Linked DNA regions of Homo sapiens. The protein of the gene in region 2 interacts with the protein of the main gene of each other region in a biochemical or structural test. Each region holds a gene or a part of one and is shown on either strand. Other genes may lie near its edges.

Region 1 (7,024 bases), on a different chromosome or scaffold from region 2:
GGCAGATAAGCAAGGATAGAAGATCACTCCTTACACTGATGAGGGCCAGTCAAGGGGGGGGTCATAGCAAAAACGAAAGGGTAAGAACTGGGCAAACCCACAGTTGGCCTCTGGCCAACTCCCTACTACAACTGATAACATTGCTTTCCACATTCCCAGGTTGGGAGCAAAGTCCACTAAGAGCCAGGGCAGGGCCACTAAGCCCTTACCAGCCCACGTGGCTTCCCTTCTCATCAACTAAAGGATTTTGTGGCATCTGGTACACCTGTTTAGCAAGACCGGCGTCTGCATCCGGCCATAACTCAAAATGTTCAGATGGCACCAGTTTCCATCCTGCTCCCAAAGTGCCAAGGACAAGCAGTACACCATCCCCATGTAGTCAGCATTCTCTTGTTCAAGGACTAAAATTCCTTATCTTTAAAATGAGGTTCCTACTTACCCTGCTAACTTAGTTGATATGATTATCAAAGAAAATCAAGCAAATGATGCACACTACGAAACATAGAAAAACCTTCCACTCCCCTTTCCTCTCTTTTTAAGACCAGGGTAGAAGTTCCCAAGCCCACCTCCAAAATCTTCAAAATACCTTCATTCTCAAGGAGAAAATGTGGCAGAGCTGTAGAGACAGGCCCCAAGACAAATGGAAAACAACCTGTCTGGATTTCCTCTGCTCATTCTGTAGCACCATCTGTCCCCACACCGGCACGAGGCAGCAAGGAATGGGAAAGATTCAGGTGCTCTGAGTTGGCAAGGAGGGGCTGGGTCAAATTCCTCTCCAGACTCCAGTGCTTGGGAAACAGTGTAATGTTAACCTAATGAAATGTCATTCTCCAGAATGCATCCAGAAATTTTGCTAGAAAAACGTAGTAGCTACTTTCAGAAATGAACATAATTTAAATGCTATTCCTTCAATGGGACAAATGCCAATAAGCCTATAATGGAATACCACTGCTTTCAATCCCCAGATCGCAGTATAATACCTTAGCACTGGTAATTGATCCAAAAGGAGAAAATTCTTTCCTTAATTTCTCATCATCAATAGTGTCATCCAAGTTCTTAATGTAGAGATTCACCCCCTGAAGGAAAAAGATCACTGTTAACTACACTTCTATATCACAAATATTCCCTAAGAAAGTGGTTCCCCAAGGGTGGCCCCAGACCAGGAGCACCAGCATCTTTGGGAACTTGTTAGAAATGAAATTCTCGGCCGGACGCGGTGGCTCACGCCTGTAATCCCAGCACTTTGGGAGGCCGAGGCGGGCGAATCACAAGGTCAGGAGATCGAGACCATCCTGGCTAACACAGTGAAACCCCGTCTCTACTAAAAATACAAAAAATTAGCCAGGCATGGTGGCGGGTGCCTGTAGTCCCAGCTACTCAGGAGGCTAAGGCAGGAGAATGGTGCGAACCCGGGAGGCGGAGTTTGCAGTGAGCCGAGATTGTGCCACTGCACTCCAACCTGGGCGACAGAGCGAGACTGTCTCAAGAAAAAAAAAAAAAAAAGAAAGAAATGAAATTCTTAGGCCAGACCCCAAACCCAATGAATAAGAAAAACTCTGGGGCTGGAGCCCAGCTATCTGTTTTAACAAGCTCTGCTGATGAATCTGATGCAAGTCCAAAGTTGTGAAACTACTGCCCTGAAACTGACAGGATCATCAGTGCACTCACCTTTTGTCACCTCTCCCCACAGCTGTTCTGGTGACCACTCACCCACCCCAGCAGGGGTCTTCTTGAAGCCATGCCAAACAAAGGAGTCTCATTTAAGTAAAAGGAACCTACATGGCTAAAAGCAACAGGCTGAGGCTTCCAAAATAGAGAGCTTCTTGATGAATAAACCCATCTCTTGTTTCTGGTTCTATAATAATCAGTCATATGTAGTAGGTATATATCCTTTTAAACCTCATCTTTTTAGGTAAAATGGGAAGAAGAACACACTCCAAGTCCTCAAAAAGAAAGCCCGCTAAACATAGGGGTGTTCTGCAAATATTTCACAGCAAATCCCATTGCTAGGCTGGGCCAAGACCACCTTACCTGATATCGACTAATTCTCTCCTGTTTCAACTGTTCAAATTTCCGTTTTAACTCTGCCTGCCGTTCTACTTTCTTTTGTGCACGGCCTACAAATATGATTTTACCACTTATTTCTTTTCCATTCATCTCTTCCACAGCCTAGAGAGGAAAAATATGTCTTTAAAATAAAGTTGCAGCGATGGGGTCTTATTCTGGAGGTCTAAGTCCCAAAAAATATTCTTTCTACTATAGGACTAAAAACTAAATTCACTCCACCTCTGAAGTCTGTCACACAAATCCAAACTTCCTCATCTGTAAAGTGAGGTTAATATTTAAATGGGTTATTGATCCAGATAATATAGAAATAGTACAGGTGTATAAACACAAGTGTGCTGACATGAGCCTAGGGCGATATAATATTCCGGCTGCCAGTAAATTCTGCAGGTGCTTTTGTGGGTATTTAAGTGATAAATATTGAGGGTCTGGCACAATGCTTTGCCCACAAGTAGCTGCCGTGCTGTTATCAAATCAGCACTCACTGGGCTTTAGTTCTCTCACCTTTGCAGCATAACAAACGTCTGTCCTATTCTTTCAACAACTGATAGCTGAGGTGACAGGTATGTGCCAAGTGCTTTGTAAACACCTACATGAAGTTAACATGCGGAACCCAGGAAGATGATCCCAGAGTATAGTAATGGTACATCTACTACCAGATACTCAGACCGTCCCAGCTCTAGGTAGGTGCTAGCAAGACCCTACCCATACTCTGGGGCAACCTCTTAAAAGCTTTTCCCAATCTTTGTGGTATACTCACCTTATTGGCATCCTCGTGTTTTTCGTAACTCACAAAGCCAAAGCCTTTGGATTTCCCATTGGGATCTCTCATCACCTTGACACTTAGGGTCTTACCTATTACCAAAGGACAGAACTATTAGTAACACCATCTTGAGCACAGCTCAGGAACAGAAGGCTTCCCTCTGGAAACTCACTTGAAGCAAATCTCTGGAGCAGTGCCCTCATCTCTTAAGAAAAAACAGATGGGTCTGGTAGACTGTGAAAGGAGACAAGGAACCCCAACTTACCAAACTGACTGAATAGCTCTTTCAGACTCTCATCATCCACCTCTTCCCCAAAGTTTTTGATATAAACATTGGTGAATTCCTTGGCTTTGGCTCCAAGCTCAGCTTCCCGCTCTTTGCGAGACTTGAATCTGCCCACAAATCTAAAATGAAACCATGAAGAACAGTAATTACCCAGAGGAATAAAACATGATGTCCAGGGACCCAAAGGAATACAGGTTAAAGACTGACAGGAGAGGTTAAAACACGAGATCCCCATCCACCACCAAGGAGGCTCAGAGATACCCCAAGTCCCCAGCAGAAAGAGAAAAAGGCAGGACTATCCTGTGAGGACCAGCCCCAGGGCTCCTGGCTTAGACCAGGGCTATTCCTACCACATCACACTGCCTTCATGAAGAAACCTGATGGCCATGTTTTTAAAATGTTCATTTCTGTGCAACTATGTAAATGCATAGAAAAGGTCTGGAAGGATACAAACCAAACTGTTAACAGTGGTTAATCCTAGATATGAGATTGTTGGAGTGAAGGGGCACCCTTTGCTTTTTAAATTTATTTATTTTGGTCTGTTATACTTAAAAGAAAATTTATCCATGCACTGACATTTTTGTATTTCTTTTTAGTGATATCTGTAGATCAACCACTGCACACACAGACATTATAAAGATAACCCATCCTCTGGCATACTGAATGACACAAAGGACAAAAATTATTTTGGCTTGTAATAGCCAAGACTTATTGTCTCTTCTTCTCCCCATATGGCTTTGGTAAGTTCCCCCTCTCTGCATTCTACAGTAACAACCACATCAAAGCAACAAGGTCTGTTATGAAGTTTTTCTGCAAAGGGATGGGATTTTTTCATTGTCACCAAGTATTACTGTGGAGCCAGCCTTGTATTAGGTCACTGAGTCATAAGTTAGAAAATGGAGAACCGCGGGGACAATTTGGCATCAACCACTAGCGAGGGACCCATGGACAGACCTGAATCACAGGAAAGCCAAGGTCACACTGCTAGTATACAGCTCCTGGTCAGTCCAGGGCCCTCTCCACTCTGCCGCTGGCCAAGACCCCGACTCAGAGTGAGCTTAGAGCTGCTTTCCAGCCAGCCCCAGTTGTTGATGCTCACAAAACCCACAGACAGATGCCTTTAAGGGAGAGGCGGCAGGCAGGCCATGGCTTGGGCAGGAAGCCCACCTTGGCGAGTCAAAAGGGCTGCCACGGCTCAGGCAGGGAGACTCACCAGCCCTGGAGTGGAGAGGTAGGAGCAGGCCACACTTGGGCCGAGAACCAGTAGCCGCCTTGTGTGTGCCAGTTAATAGCGAGGTGGGGCCACGGCTGGCTCATGCGATGGTTGTTGCTCCGGACTGGGACACTCACACTTTGCGGTCATTGAGGAGCATGCCATTCATCTTCTCGATGGCCTTGTCGGCAGCCTCTTGGGTCTCGAAGTGGACAAAGGCATAACCCTTAGAGCCGTTCTCATCACACACCACCTGTCAAAGACAAGGCGGACCACTTTAGCAGAACTGGCCAGCTCCTGAGACATGAGAACCTCAGGGTATCTTGTGCCTGAGGAGACTCTAGCCCATCCATGGCCAATGGTGGTCAAGTACACCAGTATAATTTTTCTAACACCTAGCACAGCACCAGGTGCCTAGTAAGTGTTCCATTTACAAAGGTAGCCCTACTAAGATGCTTCTATTCCAAATGTTTTATTTTTATCAAAAACAAACAAACAAAAAATACTTAAAATTGGGTGCTGTGGCTCATGCCTGTAATCCCAATGCTTTGGGAGGCCAAAGCAGGAGGATCGTTGGAGCCAGATCGTTGGACAATGGAGACCCTGTCTCTACAAAAAAGAAAAAAATTAAATGAGTGTGGTGGCACGTGCCTGTAGTTCCAGCTACTTGGGAGGCTGAGGTGGGAGGATGGCTTGAGCCCAGGAGGTCGAAGCTACAATGAGCTATTACTAGACCACTGCACTCCACCCTGGGTGACAGACAGAGCAAGACTCTGTCTCTTTAAAACACAACAACACATTTTAAGAGATCTGGGTGCAAACCACGGTGATGCAGAAAACAAAACATTTTCCAAGGCCACAACAGATTTTCAGTGTAGTATGGCATTAAACATATACACCACCACCGTTTAAGTTTTAAAGTGCTCAGCATAGAACAGATACGTAGAAGGAATAGAGTGAATTTATGCTTCTAAAGTGATTAAGTTTCCTCAAGACTAGAGACACTTCTCTGGTCCTCTACTTTCCCCCATCCCAAAAGAAAAACGTGGGCTTTCCAAAGCTAAAGAATAGGAAGGATATTTCAGGCTGAGTAAAGAACAAGGGTATGAAAGCGTGTGCTGGTTACGCTGGGTATGGCCCTGAGATTACCTATGGGAACTTTTAGGATTCCATGTCCAGCATTTTGAAAATTCCCATATCTTGTTCCCCAATTCCAAGATAGTTCTCTGTTTGGTATTTATCTTGTTTTCAAGAATCAATTAATTATTCTGCTAAAATCATTTAATCAATGTTTACCTTGCAGGACAGTATGTTTCCAAAAGCAGAAAAAGTATCATAAAGTGCCTTGTTATCTATAGATTTGTCCAGGTTCTTGATGAAGACGTTTCCCACACCAGATTTTCTCAAAGAGGGATCCCTCTGAGACCACATGATGCGGATTGGCTTTCCCTTAATCACATCAAAGTTCATGGTGTCCAAAGCCCGCTCAGCTGTAAGAGAGAAACACATTTCAATAAGGAGAGAAAACGTCAGCTCCCACAGGCCAACAGCCTAAGAACAGATTACTCCAGGACTTTTCAAGGTAATCACTCTTGATAAAAGGCAACTCTATTAAAATAAAAGGGCATCAGATTCCTCCAGCCTGCACTGTTAGTAAGGGAAGCATAAGTTCCAGCTAATGACTCTACTTCATGACAGAAGTCTAAACACCCTTCTGGGTCTGTGCCCTTGTTGGATAAAGGGGCCACAAGTAAAGATAATCTAAATGGCCTTAATGACACCAAGATCCAGTGATAATACCTCACATTTGACTAAGCTTTACCACTTAGAAGAGACTTTGCAGACTACCACCCACCATGACTCAGGTGGGACAGCTGAAATTATACATTTTACAAAATGAACAAACTTATGTTTAGGGTAACTAAGCTGTGCAGCTAGCTAGTAATTACGAAACTAATACTAGATTATCTGATTTATTTTTCAGTGAGGTATTGCATCAAAGTTATCAAGTCATTTAGTCTGCAATCCACCTATGGAGACAAGTGACAAAACCTGTAAAGCAAATGATCTGGAAAAAAAAAAAAAGGTGCTATCCCTGAATTCAGAATTCAGTCCAGTTTATTTTCAATTTCTGAGAACAGAAATTGACTTAAACAAAAAAGCATCAGTCATCAAAATGGACACAACTGATCACACATGGAAAAGTTCTCTGTACTATCACAAGGATAAAACCACCATACCTTCTGCCTAAGTAGACAGTGCGCAGATGGCAGGCCCTGCACCCACCTTTTGAAGCCTTAATGGAAGTTCTGTAGAATTCTAGGACTTCAGCTACCCTGGGTGCTCAACCAACTTCCCCATCCAACACCTTGGAATGCTTCCTTAGCTTCCCAACCAAGTCCGTGTGTACACCAGAGACAATTTAAAGAACCAAAGGCTGGGCTGGGTATGGTGGCTCACTCCTGTAATCCCAGCACTTTGGGAGGCCAAGGCGGGTGGATTACCTGAGGTCAGGAGTTCGAGACCAGCCTGACCAACATGGTGAAAACCCCATCTCTACTAAAAATACACAATTAGCTGGGCATGGTGGCGGGTGCCTGTAATCCCAGCTACTCAGGAGACTGAGGCAGGAAAATTGTTTGGACCCAGGAGTCAGAGGTTGCAGTGAGCTGAGATCGCGCCATTGCACTCCAGCCTG
Region 2 (7,667 bases):
TCCTTTTGATTTAACACAGAAGAAGGTTTGTTCTACCTTTAAAAGCATATCCTCTTTTTTCCCCCAACAGACTCCTCAACAAGTGGCTTCTAAGACAAGACTGGGGTTGTTTTCTTACTGAAAATCCTGTGTTTATCCAGTCTTTTCCTTTTCAATTTCTGAGTTTAGCTTACCTAACAGCAAAACAGAATCCTCAAATTTCTCACAGAGCAATGAAAAGCAAAACAGTTGGTTTCTCTGATCAACATCATTTTCAGTATGAAAACAAAAGTTATGACTCCTAGACCTTTGAAATATTTACAAATTGTACTTTAAACAACGAGATTTTTCAGTGTGCTTCTAAAACAAAGTAAAGGGATCAGAAAATGTGGTTCAAGTCAAGTGTGCAAAGCTCTCGAAGAAAGGTCCTGCAGCCTGGACAGGAGTACAAATATTCTCTTATACAAGTTAAATGTACTCTTTTCCTCCACAACATTTTTGAAATGAAACAGCAAATGCATTTATACTCACAAATCAGTCAAAAGGCCTCTTCTCCTTATTAAGCCCTTTACACACAGATGATAAAAGCAAGGTTTTCCTACAATAGATGTGGCCCTACCACATATTCAAGATACAATCATCCTACCATCAGTTAGGTTATGCTTTAAATATTTTGAAATCAGGTATCCTTAACTACTGATTTCCTTTTAGAAACTATCTTGAGTGTTAGATTTTCATAATTACACCATTTTTAACTTTTAGCTTTTTAAACTTCTAGACAAACTATATGTTTAAGCAAAAACAAAAATAAAAATCCTCAAAAAAAGTAATATCAGAGTTTTAATTTCAACCAGCTGGCACAACAATGAAAGTGTCAGACTTTCTGAAAGTACTCGAGAAATAATGAATAAATTCTTAATGTTTTCCCCTCCACCGCCCTTTTTTATTCTCCAAGATTAGGAATTACTACGGATTAGGTTTTTGAAAATAAAGTTTCCTTTTTGGAAAATGGTCTACATTCAGAAATGTCTTAGAACAAGCATTTAAAAAAAAACTAATAAATAATCATAAATCAAAATACATTAAAATAAAATTACAGTACATCATCGCTCCTAGAAAATTCACCATACAAGACGATCCTTTCAAAGGTTCATAAATAAAAGTCTTCTTGACTCGAAATCGTTTCCTGCATCGTGATGAAAAGTATGCAGAAAACTAAGAAGAATCGCAAGTTTTCAGTAGGGTGATGTCCAAACTACTTGATCTGGTGCGGGGCGGAGAGACTGTTTTGCTTTTGATCCAAGTGAAGACAATAGAAATGTGCTCGTCCCACTTCCTCAAGTCCTCAAAACCTGGAAAGAAATGACACCGAGTGAAGTAGGTGGCTAAGAACCCTCCGAGACCAGTTCTGTTCGGGCCAGTCCGCCTGACAAAGCGGGCTCAGAAAGACACCGTGGTGTTTCCCTCAACTGCCCAAACATATAGTCAAGTGGGGCTGGGGGACGCACCACGGGACAAGGACGGTCGTGATGGGCGCGGGCGCGGGCGCGGTCCGCGAGGCCCCCTGCCTGGCCCGGATCTCCCCAGCCTCCCCTCTCTGCCCAGCTCTCCTGGCCCCAGCTTGTTTCTGTTTCTTCCATTGCCCCAGAAACTTGGTATGAGTTTTGATTTCTCCATACAGGAGCCGAACCTGTGAACAAGCTTCCTACTCCTCCCAACTCACTACCCCCGAGACCCACTCCTCGGGAGCGCGAGTGCCGGGACCTTACCTTGTCTTGCCCGGGAGCTGCCCCTTTCAGGCAGAGTTGGAGGTGCTGCGGAGAAGCCGGTGCCCGTGCGGCTGCGAGTGCGGCTGTGGGTGTGGGTGCGGTATTTGGTGCGGATGCGGGTGCGGGTGAGGGTGTGGGTGCGAGTGAGGATGAGAGTGTGGATGTGGATGTGGATGCGGATACGGGTGGAGCTGCTGGGGCTGAGGCTTGGGTTGGGGCTGAGGCTGGGGTTGTGATTGGGGCTGGGGTTGCGGCTGAGGCTGAGGCTGGGGTTGGGGCTGGAGCTGCGGCTGCGGCTGCGGCTGCGAGGGGGGCTGCTGCTGGACCAGGTGCTGCTGCTTCTGCCGCGTGGATTTGACCGCCAGGATGGCCTGACGATTCTTGTACTGCACCATCTGCAGCGTGATCTCGGCGTTCCAGCCCTGGTCTTGCGGGCACCGAAAGTCGATCTCCTTGCCCTCTGCCATCACCACAGTGAAGTACATGTACTTGCCCTTGCGCTCCACACAGTCCACGGTCTTCATGTTGGAGAAGTGCAGTTCCTTGAGCTTGACCGGCGGCTCGAGGCTGGCGACAGCGGGGCCACTGGGTTGGGACGGCTCGGCCGGCCCCTGCCCGGGCTGTTGTTGCTGCTGCTGCTGCTGCTGTTGCTGCTGCTGCTGCTGGTGTTGCAGCTGCTTGGGCGGGATAAGCAGCAGCCCTTCCTCGGTGAGGATGCAACACTTTTTCTTCCAGAGCTGCAACAACCCGTCGCTGCGCTTCTCCAGCACGCCCTCCTTCAGCGCTTTGCAGCCGCTACTCTCCAGCATCCTCCCAGCATAAGAGGGGCCGCCGCTTGGCTCGGCCTCTCCGTTTCCAGCCGCGCGGGCCGGGGGCAGCAGCAGCAGCCTCGCGCCGTCCTCGCCCCAGCGGCTCCCACGGCCGCCTGCCCGGAGCGCGCAGAGGAGGCTAACACGCAGGAGGCAGAGCGGCGGCGGCGGCTCTGGGTCCCGGCAGAGGGACAGCCGCGTCCTGATGCGCCACAAGGTCCCGGAGCTCCGAGCTGCCGGGCCTCTGCCGTCCTCTTGCGAGCGCTCACTGAAGGGCACTGGCCGGGCCCCCTCGCGGCGCTTTTGAATGGGCCATCTTCCCCACCCCCGAGTGACACCCAGCGGAAAAGGCGGCTCCTGGCGCCCGCACCGCGGGGGAAAGCCCAGCTCCAAGAGGCGCTCGGCAGCCGGCGCACGCCTCATTAACTTGGGGCCTTTCCAAAGCCCGCTGCGTCCACGCCCTCCAGCGTCTCTTGCTCCGCCTCTCGCCGCCCACTTGCTTCCGCGCTCGTTCCCCTGGAAGGCGACCCGGACCCGAGCCCCGGAAACTCCTCTCCTCTACCCAGGGCGATCGCCCAAGGAGCCCTGGCTGCCTGACTACTGCCGACGCTCACAGGGCGCTGCGAGGCCATCCCCCGCGTCCCGCTTCTCCCCGGCCCGCGGGACTCTCTGCTAACAGCCTCAGAAAGTGAGGACGGGGGCGCGGAGGCGGGGGCAGCCTCCAGGCAGTGCTGCCTCTCGGTTCTTGGGAATTAGCCCGGGGGATTCGCGCTGGGCTCCGAGAGCCCGCAGAACCAGCGTCGTGTCCTGGGCGAGCTGGGAGGCCGGGGCCGAGTCCCGCGAGTCCCGCGAGTGTGCCTCCCCCGGACGCCTAGGTAAACAACTGAGCGCACAGAGGCCGAGAGGACATCGTGTCTTCCCACGCATATTCGCTCACGGTCACTAAGTAGCTCTTCTTGGAAAGAGGGCGATTGTTAAAGCAATAGTGCGACTGTCGGGCTTGCCACGGGTGGAGAGAGGCGGACCCACGTCAGGTCGCATCTCGCCTGCTTTTCTCGACCCCGACCGCAGGCGCTAACCCGTCTTCGGCTTTCTTCTTGACCCGTACGGTTTGCAACGTCTCTTAAAACAGTAACTCAACTCTCTACAAACCGGGGTAATATCCGGTGCTGAGATCCCACACTGCAAGGCGCAGTTCCAAACGTCTGGTCGGCCTCGCAGGTCCCTCTTTCCAAGGCCTAGCCAGATCTTGGTTTTGGAATCTCATTTATCTGTGACCTGGGGAATGCAATACCCCCAGCTCCCTCCTACTCCTACATTTAAACAATGCCTATAGAAGCCGCTTCCTGGGAAGTAAGGCATAACCGAGACCTAGCCTCCCGGTAGGGAAGTTCATCCGTTTAGTAAACAGCCCCAACTACGTGCGGACCCTCACGGGGATACGAAGAATTCAACCAGGGCTGGACAAGTCAGAGTGGGCCAAGGTAAGAGTTACGGCTGCTACTGTGCCCACGTTGGAACAGATAGATTAGTTCATCTGCTAGTTGTGTGGCAAGAGCAAAGAATTCAAGAGGGGAAGAGAAAGTGAGAGGAGCTTAGAGAGCTAAGCAAGAATCGAATCCTTTGTGTGTCATGGTAAGAAATTCGAACTTAATACCAAGGTAGTCAGAACAAAGGACAACTTTTATACACGAGGGCGTCCTGAATATTCATCTAAGAAACAATGTCTGATCAAACGGGACAATCCAGCCAGCAATCCTGAGTCCCACCGGATTATGCTTGGCCAGCTTTCTAGCCTTCACATTGTTAATTTATTAGCAATCTTTTCAGGAGAAAGGCAATTATTAAAATTATGTGGACTTCTAGTAAAATTATCTCGAAGATTTACAATTATGTATACCAATAACAAAAAAACTACATGTTTTCTGCTCCCCTGCCTTTGTAGGACAAGTGAGCATTCCAGAGAATTTCTACATGACCAGCTGTTCATTCTTTTAAGAGGATGACATTCTTCAGCTCATCTGGAAAGGATACTTCCTTTAAGTCTGTTATTCACAGTCTCCAAGGGCAGGTGTAGTTGGGAAAGACATTTCATATGGAAAAACAAACTTGATAGGGTAAAAAAAAAAAAAATGAGATGTAATCTGGAGGCCCAAGTCATTTTCTTAGGAGAAACTCAAATGTGTTTGGTGTTATCTAACCTTCTGCAGTTTATCAGTCTGAAACAAATGCATTCTATTCTCATTTGAAAATGTCTGAACAGCCACCAATTTTCAAAATCACCCATTTAACTAGAGACTTTAAAGCCCAGAATTTGCAGTTACGTATTTCAGAATGATTTAGTAATTTTGTGAGCAGCTCAGAGGTTAAGTCTACAATGTCTGACTACGGTGCATTATTGAAAATATCAGTAGTGTAAGGATCCCGTAGATTGGTGATAACTTTGCTCTTGTTATTTCAACAGTTACCACCAACAGTTGGTGACTTAACAAATTAAGAGCATAGTTGCCATATGCTCATATTTGGCAAATATGTCAAAATGGCCATATTTGCCAATTTTTAAGACAATAAATTCACAGAAAATGCATTACAGAAAATAACTTAAAAAAAAAAAAAACAACTTTTGGGCCAGGCATGGTGGTTCACACCTGTAATACCAACACTCTAGGAGGCTGAGGTGAGAGGATCCCTTGAGCCCAGGAGTTTGAAACCAACCTGGGCTACATGGCAAGGCCTCCCTCTACAAATGTAAAAAAAAAATTAGCCAGGTGTGGTGGCATGCGCCATGTAGCCCCAGCTACTTGGGAGGCTGAGGTGGAGGACTGTTTGAGCCCAGAAGTTCAAGGTTGCAGGAGCTAGGATCGCACCACTATACAAGCCTGGGTGGCAGCAAGACCCTGTTTAAAAAAAAAAAAAAATTCAGCTGTATATGCAATGAAAACCTACAAGTCACTGAAAAGTTACTGAAGTTTAGAAAACTAGCCAACAAAATCATTGCTTTGGTAAACAAATTTGAAATGGCTAATTGAAAGTACATTTTACAGCTGGCAATATAAAGTTATCTATCAGCAGCACTGGACAGTTCATTTTCTTCTCTTGGATAAAGTTTATCACTTGGCTTCAAGGACATCACTCAGTTTTCCTTTACATCTCCAGTGTCTCCTCTATGAGGTGCTTTCTCTTCTCTCCAAACTTTTAATGTTGGAATGCCCCAAGTCTTTGTCTTTGGCTCTCTTCTTTATCTACACTCATTCCCTTGTTGATATCCAGTCTCATCACTTTTAATAACATCTATATGCCAGAGTCCCAAATTTATACCCCCAACTTATATCCAACTGCTTACTGCCGAAGAATAAAACACTGAAGTTAAAAAATAATAAACATACCAGGCAAGGGAACACTTACTAGTAAAGCCATTTACTGAGTAGTTCACTAAAGGTTTAAGTCTGAGGGGATTTTAGGTCATAGGAAAAAAAAAAAAAAACTGAAAAAGAACACTCGGATGGTCAGAGGAGTCTGTAATTCATACACAATAGGTTTTAACAAATTCCTACATGGAACTGCTCCAGTTTATAGGTTAGAATTAACTATAGTGAAAAACAGCCTTCAGTTTTTATCAATTCCAGGCCAGTGAGTGCTACTATAAGTTGAAAATTCTCCATTTACACTTCTCTACAGTACGGCTTGTGTAGTCTAAGAAATCAAACATGTGAATGAGCTCCCAAACTATTTTCCTCACTCTAACCTACTCTACCTGCAGCCCCCTTTCTCAGTTGACAGCAATCCTCTGTACAGATGCTCAAACTAAAAACCGTAGATCAGTACTGCCCTTACACCAGGCCAGGAAAGGCCCTTATCCAAGGCCCTGAGCTTTAGGATTGAGTGCTTTAGAGTCAAGATGACATGTCAATCTAGAGAGCATACTCATTCTGCACTACACTCTAGGTACTCAAGACCCCAAATACCCTGCCCAGAATAGCCCCAGCTGTTCCAGGAAATGCATTACATCATCATTGCATGCACTGATGTGTTAGGGGGATAGGGCAGTTCGAATATACTGGTTATGGCATCCAAGTAAATGTGCAGGAGGCCCCTTGCCATACAGTTCAGAGCCGGGGTGGGAAGAAAAGGAAGGTGGCTCATGGGCTGAGGGTCAGCTCTGCCCGCAAGTTATATTCTGGCATAAATACAAACCTGGCTTCCCAGTTCTAATGAAAGTTTGTCAAGACAGGCACATTGGGCATATTTTCATTAAACAGTACTTTTAAATATTTAAACATACGGTATCTCCATTGTACTCTTGCCCCAGGCCTTCAAGTGTGTAGAATCATGCCTGCCTTGTAGTAATTTTTTTCTCTCCCAATATTTAATCTACACATTTAGTCAGGAAATCCTACTGGTTAGGCCTTCAACTACATCTGGATTCTGTCCACTTCCTTCATTACCACCCTGATCCAAATCACCATCATATCCCCCCACTGGATTACTATGATGGCCTCCTAACTTGTCTCCCTGATTCTATCCTTGTTATCTATTTTCAGCATAGCACCCAAAGTTATCTCCATCACTTTCTTCAAGTCTTGGCTCAACAGGCCTATCCTGATCACTCTCAAATGGTAGCCACTCAATTCCCCTTAATTTTTCCCATAGCATATATTATCTTCTAACATGCTACTCAATAATTTATTGTACCTATTGCTTATTTCTGTTCCCCTTCCCACTAGAATAGTATGCAAGCTATTCAAGAGGGCAAGGACCATTGTTTCTGATGTGTCCCAATCACCTAGAAAAAGTCTTGATACCAAGTAGATGCTCAACATAGGTAGAAATCTTGAATTGAATTAGAAGTCCATACCCATCATAAAAAGAATATCAATTTTTTCAAATGCTTTTGACAGATTTTTCATGATGCATCCTACTTTTTAAAACTTGAGATGTAAGGACTTGAAATTTGCCCTACAAACATATCTCTGGTATACTTTTTAAATGGATAACTACATGCTAGGCCTCTCTGAATCTTAAATGCTTTTATAGTCAGACATCTAAAATAAATCCCACAAACCTTTTCCCAAGCAACATGCAATTTAATATCATGAGAGGTGTTTATATA

Evidence for each region.
Region 1: the proteins of PHLDA1 (region 2) and PABPC4 form a complex in vitro, tested with the Homo sapiens proteins (one study listed by BioGRID).

The regions. Positions count from the first base shown.
Region 1 is NC_000001.11:39,566,771-39,573,794, forward strand, and holds part of PABPC4 (polyadenylate-binding protein 4), read right to left. Parts: intron 6,434-7,024; exon of another isoform or gene 6,311-6,433; intron 5,909-6,310; exon of another isoform or gene 5,817-5,908; coding exon 5,623-5,816; intron 4,580-5,622; coding exon 4,464-4,579; intron 3,854-4,463; exon of another isoform or gene 3,710-3,853; intron 3,233-3,709; coding exon 3,093-3,232; intron 2,920-3,092; coding exon 2,825-2,919; intron 2,170-2,824; coding exon 2,032-2,169; intron 1,077-2,031; coding exon 981-1,076; intron 741-980; exon of another isoform or gene 604-740; intron 1-603.
Region 2 is NC_000012.12:76,028,762-76,036,428, forward strand, and holds the start of PHLDA1 (pleckstrin homology-like domain family A member 1), read right to left. Parts: upstream 3,016-7,667; 5' UTR 2,981-3,015; coding exon 1,775-2,980; 3' UTR 1,749-1,774; exon of another isoform or gene 1,733-1,748; intron 1,332-1,732; 3' UTR 1-1,331. UniProt on the Homo sapiens protein: Seems to be involved in regulation of apoptosis. May be involved in detachment-mediated programmed cell death. May mediate apoptosis during neuronal development. May be involved in regulation of anti-apoptotic effects of IGF1.